3 separate regions of the Homo sapiens genome follow, and all the other regions are linked to region 2. The links come from fine-mapping of genetic effects on gene expression. A gene starts in region 2. Each other region holds a variant in brackets. All regions are shown on one strand. Distances are between the middles of the regions. Region 1 overlaps PIEZO1 (piezo type mechanosensitive ion channel component 1 (Er blood group)). Region 2 holds the start of PIEZO1 (piezo type mechanosensitive ion channel component 1 (Er blood group)). Region 3 overlaps PIEZO1 (piezo type mechanosensitive ion channel component 1 (Er blood group)).

What was found.
Region 1: its variant is fine-mapped to the expression of PIEZO1 in left ventricle (GTEx, PIP 0.95).
Region 3: its variant is fine-mapped to the expression of PIEZO1 in esophagus mucosa (GTEx, PIP above 0.99). The same link has a PIP of 0.9 or more in sun-exposed skin.

What each region holds. Positions count from the first base shown.
Region 1 is chr16:88,743,004-88,748,003 of GRCh38, forward strand. The region is part of intron 2 of PIEZO1 (piezo type mechanosensitive ion channel component 1 (Er blood group)); the gene reads right to left. It overlaps PIEZO1-AS1 (PIEZO1 antisense RNA 1), which reads left to right. Exons shown (of 3, transcript NR_120387.1): 1 at 1-487; 2 at 589-1,341; 3 at 2,086-2,745. Among named protein-coding and RNA genes, the nearest start is that of PIEZO1-AS1, 2.7 kb to the left of the region's middle. RefSeq lists an enhancer at 861-1,547 and a silencer at 2,565-2,624. The variant T/TTTG (reference allele first, on the strand shown) is at 2,330.
Region 2 is chr16:88,782,097-88,787,096 of GRCh38, forward strand. It overlaps PIEZO1 (piezo type mechanosensitive ion channel component 1 (Er blood group)), which reads right to left and starts at 3,124. Exons shown (of 51, transcript NM_001142864.4): 1 at 2,805-3,124. The coding sequence starts at 2,868. RefSeq lists silencers at 1,953-2,272, 2,773-3,252, 3,293-3,622 and an enhancer at 2,355-3,268.
Region 3 is chr16:88,752,642-88,757,641 of GRCh38, forward strand. The region is part of intron 1 of PIEZO1 (piezo type mechanosensitive ion channel component 1 (Er blood group)); the gene reads right to left. Among named protein-coding and RNA genes, the nearest start is that of PIEZO1-AS1, 12 kb to the left of the region's middle. The variant C/G (reference allele first, on the strand shown) is at 2,659.

The sequences.
Region 1 (5,000 bases), 39 kb before region 2:
GCATTTCAGGCACCTGCTGTGCACCAGGTCAGGCCCCAGACCGGCATCCTCTCTCTCTCTGTGCACCCACACCTGGCAGGAAGCGGCAGCACCATCTGGTTGCCTGGCAGCCTTGTCCTGCTCCCAGCTGCCTGTGGCCCCACTGGACTCAGCCCCCCAGCAGGGAGGCCTTCGGCTGCAGGGCAGGGGCTGGGCGGGCGCACCCTGTGGCTGGGGGCACTCAGGAGCCCTGGCTTCACCTCTGCTCTCGGCGCACATGTGGACAGCTCACCCTTCAGCAGGGGTCCGGACCAAAGTCCTTGACCCACCGGGTTCTGAGTCCTGACAGGGCTGTGGACAGCTTCCCTTTCCACCCCGGCACGTGCTGGCAGGAGCTTCCGGGCCCTCACCCTGGGGCAGCAACTCCTGCACCACCAGCCACGCCCGGCCACGAGAAAGTGCAGAACAGCTCAGGCCCTTCTCACAACTTCCTGGAGCTCAGGGACAGGTAGCATCTGGGTCTGGGTCCAAGGTGGTGAATGTCACCACCACATCTGCCCTCTCTCGGCCTCGGGGCGCAAACTCAGGGCCTGTGTCCACTCTGTTCAGTTTTTTGAGCACAAATGGTGTTAGGTGACAGACTCGGGATTGGCCTTGGACACTCAGCCCCCTCTTTCTGGAGCAAAGACTCATGACCCACGTCCAAGTCACCCTGCACATCCCTAAGCCTGACCGTGAAGCAGCCCTCACGGATGCCCAGGACTCCCTGTCCGCACCACCAGGCAGCCGAGGCAGGTTTGGACCAGCTTCTCACACTCACACCTTCCTAGGGTTGCCCCAGGCCCTGACCTGCTGACCCTGCAGCTATGACCTCTGACCTGTGGAGGATGGGAGGGGTGAGCAGCAGGGAGAGTGGGAAGGAGGAATGGAAAACCGTCCAGGAAGGGAGGCTGCAGCCCCGACACGAACAGGAGCCACCACCAGGGGGTGCTGTGCAGGGCTCCCGGAGGACAGGACCTTCCAGGGCCTCCCTGCCCCGAACCCATAGGTGCCAGGCTTCTCACTGCTCACGACCTCCGTGCCGGGCTCATACCTGCCGCGCCAGCCCCTCTTCAGCAGAGCACAAGTCTGGCAGCAGGAGGGCACCAGCCAGGGGCCCCGCGCCCCCGCCTCTGTACAGCAGGGTCACCGTGGGGTGACATGAGAACACCGACCCAGGGAATGGGCTCCTGCCACACCTGCCTGGGAACCTGGGCTGTGAGTCCTGCTCGCTGCACCCTCTAGCCTGACGTTGAAGTAACCTCGCCAGCGGGGCCCTCTGTGGCACTGGGCACTCAGGGAGAGCACGTGGCATTGGAGAAGGTATTCTGAGTCCTACAGAGAGGGACCTGCGGGGCCTGCCCCACAGGCACGTGGGGCTCCTGCTGGGGCTGTCAAGGACCCCCGGGCACTGAGAGGACATCTGGGCCCTTGGGCAGCCAGGCTGACGGGTTCCCTGCACACACGATCCAGCAGCCCGGGAAGGAACTGCCTGACCAGAGACCCCTGGGCAGGGAGGGGCTCTCAGGCCACCTGGCTCCCGCCCACCCGCCTTGCCCTGCACGACAGTCCAGGATGTCCGTCTCTGGCTACATCTCGGATGTCACTGCTTCCCCATTGTCTTCCTCCCTCCCCTTTCCCTGCCTCCTTCCCGGTTCAGTTCTCGGGCCGGCCAGAGTGTCCTGGTCTGGCCATGTTAGAACAGCTGGGCCATGATCCCTCCGCAGGGTCGAAGGGGCCGCAGCTGGGCCTGGAGGCCACTCCTGGCCACGTGGCACGCCCGCTCCCTGCCTGGGCTGGATCAGACTAGGGAGCTGAGAGTCCGAGGGGCACCCCGGGAAGAGACGCTGCTGGAGATGGGAGGGGGCCGGAACGTGCAGAGGGATCGAGGCTCTGCTGACCTGCACGGGGCGGGGAGCGGGGAGGTGCACACAGAGGCCGAGGGGGCACCCTGACACCGGCCCTCTTCTCCGACGCAAACAGCATGACCTCAAGGGGTCGGGTGGCTTTCTCGTGCCTCCACCTGCAGCCCCTGTCCCCGCCCACCCCGTCACTCTCCCCCTGCAGGTCCCACCCCCAAATGCAAAGCTGGGAAAACCAGGCTGAGCCGGGGATCAGGCCACCTCCGCAGGGACCCACTGCTGCCTCTTCCAGGAGCCCAGGAGACCCAGTGGGTCTCCTGCCCCCGACTCCAACTCCCTCCTGGCAGGACACACCCAGCTCACAGTGGCCTTTCCATCCTGGGAAAGGGAGTGAGAGGAGGCTCAGGCCAGGGACCCGCCCAGCTCTGGCCGGCAACCGCCCTTCAGCC[T/TTTG]TTCCTGAACCACTGTGTGGGCCCCAACCCATCCGCTGCCTGCCGGAGGGAGCCCATGGGGAATGGACTATTCTTGCCACCCCTATCCATGGCAGGGGAGGGGCTCAGCATGGCTCTTGCCCACCCAGAAGAAGGTGCAGGGGGCCTGGCGTGGTGGTTCACACCTTTGGGAGGCCGAGGTGGGTGGATCACCTCAGGTCAGGAGTTTGAGACCAGCCTGGCCAACATGGTGAAACCCTGTTTCTACTGAAAATACAAAAATTAGCCAGGCGTGGTGATGGGCACCTGTAATCTCAGCTACTCAGGAGGCTGAGGCAGGAGAATCACTTTCACTTAAACCCAGGAGGCGGAGGTTGCAGTGAGTTGAGATCGCGCCACTGCACTCCAGCCTGGGCAACAGAACAAGACTCCGTCTCAAAAAAAAAAAAAAAAAAAGGGGCCGGGGCTCCCCCTCCAGCTTGCAGGGCTCTCAGGAGGAAACAGGAAGGGGCGGGGAGGCCCCAGGGTATTGCAGACCGGATGGTTGACAGAGCATGGACCTCCCCCAGAGCCGGAGCCCTTGGACCCCGGCACGGCCTGCAAAGGCTGAGGGGCCCCACCACGGCAGCATCCTGATGCGTGGTCCATAGCCACCATCCCCACACCTGCCGGACAAGGGCTGGGCCTGATTGTTCTGTGGGGAGTGTGGAGTTGCCCTGAGTCTGATCCGTGGGGTGTGCATGGGAGCCCCCTGGAACCTGATCCATGGGGTGTGCATGGGACCAGCCAAGGGACCCAGGGTGCCTTGAGGCTGAGCCATGAGGCCCACCCAGCGACAGCTAGGGCTGAGCTGCGGGGTAGGGCCACGAGAGGGGCCTTTTGAGACAGAGGATGGAGACTACACAAGGCTGGCAGAGCCGGGGGACCAGTGAAGCTGGAGAGGGTGGCAGGGCCTCCCTGCACGGGGCATGGTAAGAGGTGGGGGGTGATCTCTCTCCAGACAGCAGGGTCAGTCTTGGAGGTGGGTTTTATCCTAAGGCAGGATGGGGCTTCTGAGTCCCTAAATGACAAGCAGGTCTCTGGGAGCCACCCCCTGTGGCTCTGCCTGCAGCCCTGCCTGGAGCACCAGGGTCTGTTCCCTCTGCCCCAGCCCCAGCCCCTACCCCTCTCCTCCCTGTTCAGTCTGAGCTCAACCTCCAGCCCCCCAAGGATCAGGCTGACGCCTACAAGGGGACCAAGGCTCAGATGGCGTCAGAGCTTCCACCAGGGCCACGCCAAGCCCAGCAGCTGCACAAATCATAAAGCCCCGGGCACTCGGCTCGGGCAAGCCTCACACTTTCCTCTCTCCCTCCCGGAAAACTGGGCAGCATCTCCGTCTCTGAAGGGCCTCTGACGAGGCTCAGGCAGGGAAGTCCTCCCGGGTCCTCTCCAAATCTTCCCACCCCAGCTCCTCCCCTGGCCTGGCTGGGCGCCTGCCTTCCCCCACTGCTGATTAAAGGAAAGTGTTTCCAATTGCGCCCTGGGCATGAAATATTTACGGAACAAACGGCGAAACGCCAGGGGCCTGGGAACAGACAGAACCGGCTCCACAGAGCAAAGGGGAGGCCCAGGATAGGGACCGGGAGTGGGGGTGCCCACCCACCCCAGCCATGCATCCTGGAGGGGTTTGGGCCTCGGGCCCCAGCGACTCCCAGCACTCGGCCGCACTGGGCCCCTCCCAAAATGCCTCTCTGCACCCCTGAATTCTACCCATGATCCAAGATCAGTGCCTGCGCTGGGCACAGTGACTCACACCTGTAATCTCAGCACTTTGGTAGGCTAAGGCAGGAGGATCGCTTGAGCCCAGGAGGTGGAGGCTGCAGTGAGCCATGATCATGCCACTGCTCTCCAGCCTGGGCAACCAAGCAAGACCCCCACTCGAAAAAAAAAAAAAAAGCCAAGCACGGTAGCTCATGCCTGTAGTCTCGGCCGAGGTGGGCAGATCACCTGAGGTCAGGAGTTCAAGACCAGCCTGGCCAACATGGTAAAACCCCTGTCTCTACAAAAACACAAAAATTAGCCAGGCATGATGGTGGGCGCCTGTAATCCCAGCTACTCGGGAGGCCGAGGCGGGAGAATCGCTTGAACCCGCGAGGCGGAGGTTGCAGTGAGCCCAGATCGTGCCATTGCACTCCAGCCTGGGTGACAGAGTGAGACTCCATCTCAAAAAAAATAAATAAAAAAGACCATTGCCCACCCCACAGCACCACGAGCTAGGAGGAGCCTCTGGGATGCTTCCAGCCAGATGTCGCGAGGCCGGAGAGCGACCTTCCACCTGCAGCTGGCAGAACGATGGACCCCAATGATGCCTGCACCCCAGTCCCCAGAATCTGTGAACGCAGAAGCTCACATGCAGAGGCGAGTCCAGGCAGCAGAGGAAATGGGGGCTGCCCAACAGCTGACCTTAAACCAGGGAAGTCGGCCTGGATTAGCCGGGGAGGCAGATGGGACGAAGCCACAGGGTTACCGCAGGGGAGAGGGAGCAGGAGAGACAGGGTGTGATCCTGACCCCACCCCACCGGCTCTGGAGATGGAGGGAGGGGCCCCAAGCCCAGGAAGGTAGGCACCTGGAGCAGCTGGAAGAGGAAGCAGATCCTCCCCAGAGTCCCCTGGAAAAACGCAGCCCGGTGGACACCTCGTAGCCATGGACAGG
Region 2 (5,000 bases):
ACAAATGTCCTGCCCTTTTTTTTCCTTTTTCTTTTTTGAGACAGGGTCTGTCACCCAGGCTGGAGTGCAGTCATACAATCATGGCTCACTGTAGCCTCCAACTCCTGGACTCAAACAATCATCCCACCTTGGCCTCCTGAGTAGCTGGGACTACAGGTGCACTACCACCATGCCCAGCTAATTTTTAAATATTTTTCATAGAGATGGGGATCTCTACGTTGCCCAGGCTGCTCTCGAATGGCTACGCTCAAGCAATCCTCCCACCTTGGCCTCCCGAAGCTCTGGGATTACAGGTGTGAGCCATCGCGCCCAGCCCTGCCCTGACATCTCTCTAGAAGAGATGGGCCCTGATCCCCCAAGGCTCCAGCAACATTAGGTGAGACTGCTGAAGGAGGCCCCTGCTCCCTGTGGGTGGGGCAGCTCCCTGCCAGATTTTTGGGTAATGATCCTGCACTGGAGAGGGAGGGCGTGGGGGCCAGGGGCACCCCAGGATGACTCAAACCCTCACCAGGCACTGTCTGAGCCAGCGCAGGCACACACTGACTAATGCCTTCTGAAGGCCTCATTCATTTCCAAAACACGGTAGAACTGCTTCCAGCCAAAGCTCGCCAGAGAGGGAGGGGGCACTCCAAAGACAGCAAAGCCAGTGTCCCACCTCCGGCCAGGCCAGCTGAACCTGCACATCGCGGGTCCATCTGGAGCTGCCCACACCCCAGGGCCAGAGAGCCTGACTCAGGAGTCCCGGCCAGCAGGCAGGCAGGCAGGGTTCTTGGCCGGCTCCACTTCCATCTCCCCCAGGTGACTGAGAGAAAACACTGAGTGAGGCCCAGGCCCCACGCCCCATCCCCAGACACAGAATCAGTGTGGGGTATGGCCCGGGCTTCAGCATCTTTCAAATTAAGAGACTTTATTTGGGACCAGTTTTAGGTTTAAGGAAAGTACCATACAGACAGACAGTCAGTCATCACTATTCTTTAAAAGTTTCATAGAAGACTGACACGGGGCCTGGGTGAGCACCCCTGGGCTACCTCCCCATCCTCCCCAAGGAGGCCAAAAGCAAGAAGAACAGTGATCCCTCCCCCAGATCCCCCACGCGGATAGCAATCGAGAAGGCAGAACCCAGGCCCCCTGACCAATGCCCAGGGGGCAGCAAACCACATGTGCCACAGAATCGGGCTCAACACCTGTTTAGGTACAGCCCATGAACTCAGGAGGGCTTTTACATTTAATGGCTGGAAAAATACCAGAAGAAGAAGATTTTGTGACATGAAAATATTTACCATCTGGTCATTTAAAGAAAAACATTGCCAACTCTGCCCAAGGAGCAGCTGCCATCTGAGAGGGGGGGCATTCCCTGCAGGGAGGACACCCGCTCCCACTCAGACACAAGAGGAAATGGAACGATCAGTGTGAACGGGACGTTTCAGAAGCTTTCCTGTTTCCCTCTCTAAGGCCTGTCAGCTCTAGACTCTGCCTCTGTGCCAGGCTGTCCTGCTTGTTTTCAAGGCACAGGAAGGAACACAGCCGGGCCCTGTTTACGGCCCATCTGACCCTGCACTGGGAGCAGGTCCCAGGCTGCCCAGTCCACACAGGGCTGACCGCACTGAAGAGAGTTGCTCAAAACCTCTCCTCTCCAGCCTCAATGGTTTTCATTGATTCCTGTCTAGAAAATCTTCCCCAAGTTTCACCACCTTTCTGTGCGACCGATCAAAACGCAGTCTGTCTGGGAGCCTCAGGCAGGCGGCTCTAGATCCCCAAAGCTAGCGCTGGGCGAGCTCCCACCTGGAGCGAGGCAAGGGCTCCGAAAGGGCTTTTACAATCAAAAGGCCCCACCTGCCGTGTCCATGGCGGACTCCCAATGCAAACCGTCCCACTTGTCCGTGGGTTAATTCCATCCGACTGCTTCCCAGATCAATCACACGTGGGGAGCCCCCGGGCGGAGGGCGCGGACCCTGGGTCCCGGCTAGGCCAGGGTCGGGGAAGGGTAGGGGTGCCAGGCCGTGCAGCACCAAGCCACCCGGGTGTGCTTCGCGAAAGGGGCACCACTGCCCGGCAAGCAGGGAACACAGATGCCAGGACTGGGGACCCCTGCCCCGCCCTGACACCAGGCCACAGCCTCCGGGGGTGTCCCCTCCCCCAGACCAGGGCAGAGGCCGGCCCCCGCCCCTGCGAAACTGAGCCCAGTAGGGCAAGGGAGGACCAGGGAGGAACCCACACTATTTTTTTCCAAAGTGTGGGACCGCCTCAGTCCGGCAGAGGGGGGTGCAGCGGTGAGCGGGGCTGGGCCCTGGGCACGGACGTTCGTTGGGCTCGGGAAGCTCCAAATTAAACAGCTCCAGGCAGGAAGCCCGCCTTCTCCCAGATTGTCAGGAAGTCCTGATGCAACTTTGCGCTTTTTTTTTTAAACCCGAAAGAGAAAAAGAGATTCGTGCTCCCCCCACCACCGCCGCGGCCCTTCCCACCGGGGCAAACACCGCCTCGCCCGGCGGCCTCCTCTCCGCAGCGCCCCGGCGGAGACGCCAGCCGCGCTATGCCCGGCGCTCGCTCGACCGCCCCCGTGGGCACGCGGTGCCGTCTCCCCCAGCCGCCGCCGCCCTTCCAGCCCGGCCCTGGGACAGGAGCCCCGCCGCCGCCTGGCGCGCTCATGCTTCAGGAATGCGGGCGCCCGGGTCGCGCGTCCCTGGGAATTTCCGCGCCCGCTCGCCCGCAGCCCTCGCCCCGGCCGGCGTCGTCCGGTGTCCAGGCCGTGGGGAGCCGAGACGCAGCCCCCTCCCGTCGCCCCCAGGCGCCCGCCCCCCACTCACCAGCCAGCAGCGCGCAGGGCAGCAGCAGCCAGTACAGGACCGCGCCGAGCACGTGCGGCTCCATGGCTGGAGGGCCCAGGGCCCGGCCCAGACCGAGCGGACGCCGCGGCGCTATGGGGCGGTGCGGGGGCCCCGGGGCCGGCGCGCCATGGCTGACCCGCGGGGACCCGCGCGCCGCCTTCTCCTCTTCCTCCTTCTCCTTCGGCCGCCCCGCCGGTGCCGACGTCCCGGGCCCGCGCTCGCTCAGGCGACCGCCCTGCCCCTCGGCGGAGCGCAGCGCTCGGCTCACTGGGGCCGAGCTGGGCCGGACGGCGGCTCCCGCCCTCCTCCGCCCGCGGGCCTTTATAAGCTCGGCCCCCTCCCGCCCTCCCCGGCGTGCCCGCCTCCGCGCTTCCCCGACGGCCCGGCGCGCCCAGGCACCCCCTCCGCTGTCCCGCGCGGCCCGTCCCGCCTCCGGCCCGCCCTGGTGCGTTGGGGCCTGGAGACCCCCGACTGGCGCTGGCCCGGAGCGGACCCCTCCCCTCCCGCAGTCTTGGCCCCGCGGCTCCGAGCGTGCGCGGCGGTGGGCAGGGGCGCTTCTCGCTGGGTGGGCTGCGGCTGGGGCCCGGGCGCTACATAAGGGGTCCCGGGGCCTCTGGCTCCCCCAGGCAGCGCCCCACGCGCAACTGCACCCCGCGTGCCCGAGCGACTTTCGCTTTGCTCCCCGAGGCGCGAGCACGCAGCGCCCCCTGGGGACCGTGGGGAGGCTCGGAGTTCCCGCGGCGGCCGGGCCTAGTGGTCCCGGAGGGAGCACGCGGGATGCTCGGGTCGCAGCAGTGCCGCGATCCGCGTTGGTCTGACGGGGGCTCGGGGGCTGCTCCCAGCCACGCCGGCCACCGCGCGCGGCTTTGCCCGGGTCGCTCTGGCGTGAGACGGTGAGAGTGAGAGCCACGGCCTGTGCACCTGCTGCCGCGGCGCCCTGCCACGGAGAGGTAGGGTCTGAGTCCAGGGTGTTCGGGACCCTCACCCAGGCCACGTCAGTTTGGCCTTCGTCTGCCCTTGAGATGGGCACAGAAAGAGGGCAAAGGGCTCTACACCGTTTAATTGGGCTCAGTTCATGGCTCTCAAACTCAGCTGCGTAAGGCAGGGAGTGGGGCTGGGGGGACTGTGGCCACTGAGCCTCAAGGCACTGGCAACTCATGAGAGCCCAGCACAAGCCCACACCCTCCAGCTCAAAAAAAAAAAAAAAAAAAAAAGATGGCGGGGCAGTGGCTCAGGCCTGTAATCCCAGCACTTTGCGGGGCTGAGGCAAGGGGGTAGGGGGTCGGGGGATCACTTGACGTCAGGAGTTCGAGACCAGCCTGGCCAACATGGTGAAACCCCGTCTCTACTAAAAATACAAAAATTAGGCCGGGCGCGGTGGCTCACGCCTGTAATCCCAGCACTTTGGGAGGCCGAGGCGGGTGGATCACCAGGTCAGGAGATCGAGACCATCCTGGCTAACACGGTGAAAACCCATCTCTACTAAAAACATAAAAAATTAGCCGGGCGTGGTGGCGGGCTCCTGTAGTCCCAACTACTCGGGAGGCTGAGGCAGGAGAATGGCATCAACCCAGGAGGCGGAGCTTGCAGTGAGCCGAGATAGCGCCACTGCACTCCAGCCTGGGCGACAGAGCCAGACTCCGTCTCAATAAATAAATAAATAAATAAATAAATAAATAAATAAATATACAAAAATTAGCCGGGCGTGATGGCAGGCGCCTGTATTCCCAACTACTCAGGAGGCCGAGGCAGGAAAATCGCTTGAACCTGGGAGGCAGAGGTTGCCGTGAGCCGAGATCATGCCATTGCACTCCAGCCTGAGTGACAAGAACGAAACTCCATTAAAAAAAAAAAAACCACCCAGAAATGGAGATTTTCATGGGAAGTCTAGTGTTTAAAGGCTGATATAGGCCGGGTGCGGTGGCTCACGCCTGTAATCCCAGCACTTTTGGAGGCCGAGGCGGGTGGATCACGAGGTCAGCAGATGGAGACCATCCTGGCTAACACGGTGAAACCCCATCTCTACTAAAAATACAAAAAATTAGCCGGGCGCGGTGGCGGGCGCCTGTAGTCCCAGCTACTCGGAAGGCTGAGGCAGGAGAATGGCGTGAACCCGGGAGGCGGAGCTTGCAGTGAGCCGAGATCACCCCACTGCACTCCAGCCTGGGCAACAGA
Region 3 (5,000 bases), 29 kb before region 2:
AGCTGGAGGCCTCCCTGACCGCCCTGCCCCTGGCCGAGCCAGAGGGGAACCTTGAGGGGCAGAGTGGACTCAAAGGCAGAGGACGATGGGGGCATGGGAGGCACCTTGGCAGGGGTTCCCCGGCAGGCCAACGTCACCCGGCAGGGCAAGTCCCCTGCCTGAGACCATGACCCACCACGGGCCTGCCCTGGGGTGATCAGCAACACGCCCCCCAGAGTTTGTTCACTCATTCATTCATCCATTCATCCATTCATCCATTCATTCATTCATTCAATACCAAGCAGGCCCCACCAGGCAGCGGGCTTGGTCTAGGGTCCGGGGACATGGTGGACAGTTGGACAGACAGCTAAGGCTTGTCCCAGGTGGCGGCCACTCACCAACAACACAGACAAGGAAAAGGCTCAGAGAGGAAGAGGGCTACTTAGCCCAAAGCCCACCCACCGCCCCCAGAGCACACCCACCGCCCCCCAGAGCACACTCACCCCCGGAGCACCCCTGCCCCCCCAGAGCACAACCGCCCCCCCAGAGCACACCTATCCATCCCCAGAGCACACCCCGCCCCCCAGAGCACACCTGTCCATCCCCAGAGCACACCAGCCCCCCCAGAGCGCACCCAGCCCCCCAGAGCTCACCCGCCCCCCCAGAGCGTACCCGGCCCCCCGCAGCACACCTCCCGCCCCCGGAGCACACCTGCCACCCCCAGAGCACACCCACTCACCCAAGGACGGGCTGAGACAGGAGGGCCCTGGCTGGTCCCTGGCGCCATCTTCTGTCAGCCTTGCCACAGACACCAAGCAGGGGCAGCCTCACGGGTGGGATGAGAAGGGGGCTCAGGGTCACAGCCCAGCCCACCACTTCTCCCATCATCTGGTCTTGGGGTCCTCGGAGTAGCCGGCTAGCAGGGCAGGAGTGAGGAGCACTCCTCCAATGCTCCAATGCCCCCATTTTCAGATGGGATGGGCTCTGAGAGGGGAGGAGCTCCCAAGAGTGGTCAGGACCCAGGTCCGGGCATCCCGGCCGCAGGGCCACGGCTTTTCGAAACACTCCTTGGATCTACCTGTGCTGTCTATGCAGCCGGCAGTGCTCTTGGTCTAAGTGTGTTGATGTGGCCTCAGCTGTGACTTTGTGGGCTAAAGCCAGAGGGGGAGACTTCAGAGCAGGCTGCCTGGAGGAGACGGCATTGCTTTTGGCCCTGAAGACTGGCTCCAACTCAGGGCAGGTCGGAAGCTTCGCAGATCAGGCTCAGGCAGAGAAGGAAGAAATTCAGCCAAAGGGGAGGCGGGGCCTGAGACAATCCAAGGAGCGGGGACAGGAGCCTGCCCTGCCCTGTGGCTCCCATGTTCCCATCAGGAGCTGCCCAGGCTGGGCCTGTGACCCCGTGGGGGTAATGCCTTTTCCTGAGTCAGCTGCAATGGGATGGGGTCAGAGAGAGCTGTGGTTCCCAACCCCCAACCCCCTCGCCTCACCAGCACACGCCTGACTATGGCCCACATCCAGCTCCTTGGGAAGCAGAGAGCCCAGCCATCACCCATCCACAGACCTTCATCCTACAGCTGAGAGGAGCACAGTCAGGAGGGGAGAGGCTGCCCCCACGGTAGCTGCTGGGCCCCTGGGTGTCCAAGGGCTGGGCTGGCCTCTGCTTTCAGTGGGTGCTGGCCAGGAAAGCCACAAATGCCACATGGTGGTAACCAGGACCACACACCACTCAACCGGAACATTCCACAAAGAGGGCTGGACACCACCCACTCCCACTGGCACATAGGAAGACCTGCCAGGGGATGTCAGATGCCTGAGCCCCCCTGCCAGGATCCAGTTCCTGGGATGAGACCCTTGCAGCTGACCCACGCCCGGGTGGGAGAGGAGAAACTGCCCAACCCTCGTTCCCTGTGGTGATCGAGGAGGAGCTGTCTGGCCTCCTCTAACACGGGCTGAACCAAGCCTGACGAGGCCTGAAGGACTGTCACAGGGAGGGCTGCCGGATGGGGCTTTCACAACCTGGACACCTCATACATGCTCCCTCCAGGAGCCACACAGAGACCCAAGGCCAGGATTTTGAGCAGGGGGGCTCCGTGAAACAGCCGGTGCGGCCTGTGTGTGACCCCACACTGCCGGGGCCCGCAGGCCAGCGCTGGCCGAGAGCAGGACGTGGTGCAGAAAGACTGCGGCCCACACGGGTGGGTGACCCGGGACCCACAGGAGCTGAGGCTGCATCACAGAGCAGGCAGAGACGAGCTGGGGGCATCGTGTGAACGAACGCCCCGGCGTGCCGTCCCGCTCCACGCCTGCACAGGAGCTGAAAGCTGGGGCCCCAGGCCCAGCAGCTGAACCTCCCACCCGAGGACACCTGTTGCGCCCCAGGGAGAGGAGAGGCCTAACCAGAGGGTGGACACACCTGCGGCCATCAGGTCACCGCCGCGGCCATCACGTCACCGCCGCCCCCAGTGCAGGCACGGGGCTGGGTGATCTGTCCCGTACAGTCCTGTGGCACTAGCCGAGGACCACGACTGTCACCTCCACATTGCAGACGAGGAGATGGAGCAAGCCTGGGATGCGGCGAACAGCCGCCCCCGCCGCCCCCGCCATGTGGCTCGGGCCTAGCTGGCTGTGGGGACAGAGTAACTTTATTTAAATGCTAATCTGCTGATTAACCCCGGGTCT[C/G]GGAATGCCTCCAGACTGGCTGGTTGATGCATCATCTTCCTGCAGGAGCACCTACTCCCTGGCATTCACGTGCAGGAAAGAAAAAAAAGAGTGTCTAGTCCTCGTACGTTTCTTCCTAAACAAACCCGGTGCTGCAGCAGGAATCTGGCCACCCCACCCGCCACGTTCCCAGCCACCTGCACATTCCTCCCAGGGCACGATACGAGCCCCAGATCGGGCGTTTGGGTTCAGAGCTCTACCTGCCTGGAGGCTGCCTGAGGCCATGTTTCCGTCTGTAAGTTCCTGCCAGTAAATAGGCGGGTACCAACACACTTGCTCTGTCTGCCTCCTTTTATTTCCCGGCTCCTTCAGTATCTGGGGGTTGCTTTGCTTATACCGCCTTTTCACCGAACGGTGGCGCCTACCCTCAAAGCTCCCATCTCCAAAGGGGACAGTGCAGAAGGCACCATGAGAGGCCGGGGGCCCCCAGGCCAAGAGCTGCAGAGCGGCCTCACAGGAGAGCCTCGGGCGGTGGACAGGTGGGGACCGGGTGGGACCAGCAAGTCTGAGGAGACAGTGGCGCTCAGGAGTCAACCTGGCCAGCAGATCCTGACATGAGAAACCGGGGCCAGGGGGTGGCAATTCCTGGGTTCCCAGCACAGGGCAGAGCCTCGGAGCGGGGAGGGCGGGGGCCACCCAGGAGCCAGGACAGCAGAAGAAGGAAGGACTGGGGCCTGGAGTCCAGGTGTGGCCCAGCACTTGGGTCCAGGGTCACAGGAGTGAGCAGTCAGAGGTGTCCTCAGCCATGGAAGGTATCACACACCAGGCAGGGAAGTGGGGCTCTGCGGCCGCCATCTGGGAGCCTCGAGGGTGGTCTATGCTCTCGGGGTGACTGTCCACTCCTCACGGGCACCAGGCCACAGGGAGGGTGTGCAGGACGCCCACACCCAGCCCGATGTCCACCAGGAGCTCAGTCTTAGGCATGGAGGCACCTGCCCAACCTGGGTGCCTAGAAGGATCCTAAGAGGCCCCTCCACAACCTGGAGTCAGTCGTTCTGCCTCGGGACTCTGGACCCCACAATGGCCGCACTGGCCACTGATGGGGCGGGGTGGGCTAATGGACCGGAAGGATCTCGTGTGACATGTCCTCAGGAACCACACCCACCTGAGTGCTGTACAAAACTGGTGGCTGGGGCCGGGCACCGTGGCTCACGCCTGTAATCCCAGCACTTTGGGAGGCCGAGGCGGGAAGATGGCTCAAGCCCGCCATCTCATGGTCAGGAGTTCGAAACCAGCCTGGCCAACATGGTGAAACCCCATCTCTACTAAAAATACAAAATGTATCTGGGTGTGGTGGTGGGTGCCTGTAGTCCCAGCTACTTGGGAGGCTGAGGCAAGAGAATCGCTTGAACCTGGGAGGTGGAGGTTGCAGTGAGCTGAGATTATGTCACTGCACTCCAGCCTGGGCAATAGAGCAAGATTCCGTCTCAAAAAACAATAAAAATAAAAACAAACAAGCCAGGTGCAGTGGCTCATGCCTGTAATCCCAGCACTTTGGGAGGCCGAGGCGGGCAGATCAGAAGGTCAGGAGATCGAGACCATCCTGGCCAACATGGTGAAACCCTGTCTCTACTAAAAATACAAAAAAGTAGCCGGGTGTGGTGGCGGGCACCTGTAGTCCCAGCTACTTGGGGGGCTGAGGCAGGAGAATGGCGTGAACCCAGGAGATGGAGCTTGCAGTGAGCCGAGATCAGGACACTGCACTCCAGCCTGGGCGACAGAGCGAGACTCCGTCTCAAAACAAACAAAAAATGGGTGGCTGGGGAGCCGCACTGGCCCTCGGTCCCTGGGGAAGGGAAGGGCTGAGGCAGGCAGATGGCAATCCAGGTTTAGACTCCAGGTTAGACCACCTGGAGGCTGAGCCCTCGGAGCCGGGGGCTGGAAGACGCGATGCATTGAGGTTAGGAGGAGGGACCTCGAGAGAGCTGGCAGCGCAGCAGCACCTGGTGCAGGCCCTGGGTATGCAGGGGGCGTTGCTGGCGGGGGGGTGGGGGGTAGTTACCTAACCTGCCTGCTTTCCCGTGTGGTTAAAAGGCTCCAATGACAGTGCCTGAGAGTGTGTGGACACTGGCAGCCTGTGAGAGCAGGGGCGGGTGGGAACAGGTCTCCAAAAGGACTGACGGGGCCTAGGAGACAGGAGAGGGACAGGTGCTTGAACAAGGGCTGGGGGCCAAGACGGGGGAAAGAGCTTCTCAAAGGAAGTGGAGCCAATGGGCTGGACTGAGATCCCATCTCCACCTTCTCCAGGGCTTCCACACCCAGGAAGGAGAGCCCATGGGTTGAAGCTTCGTCACCTGGGAAGC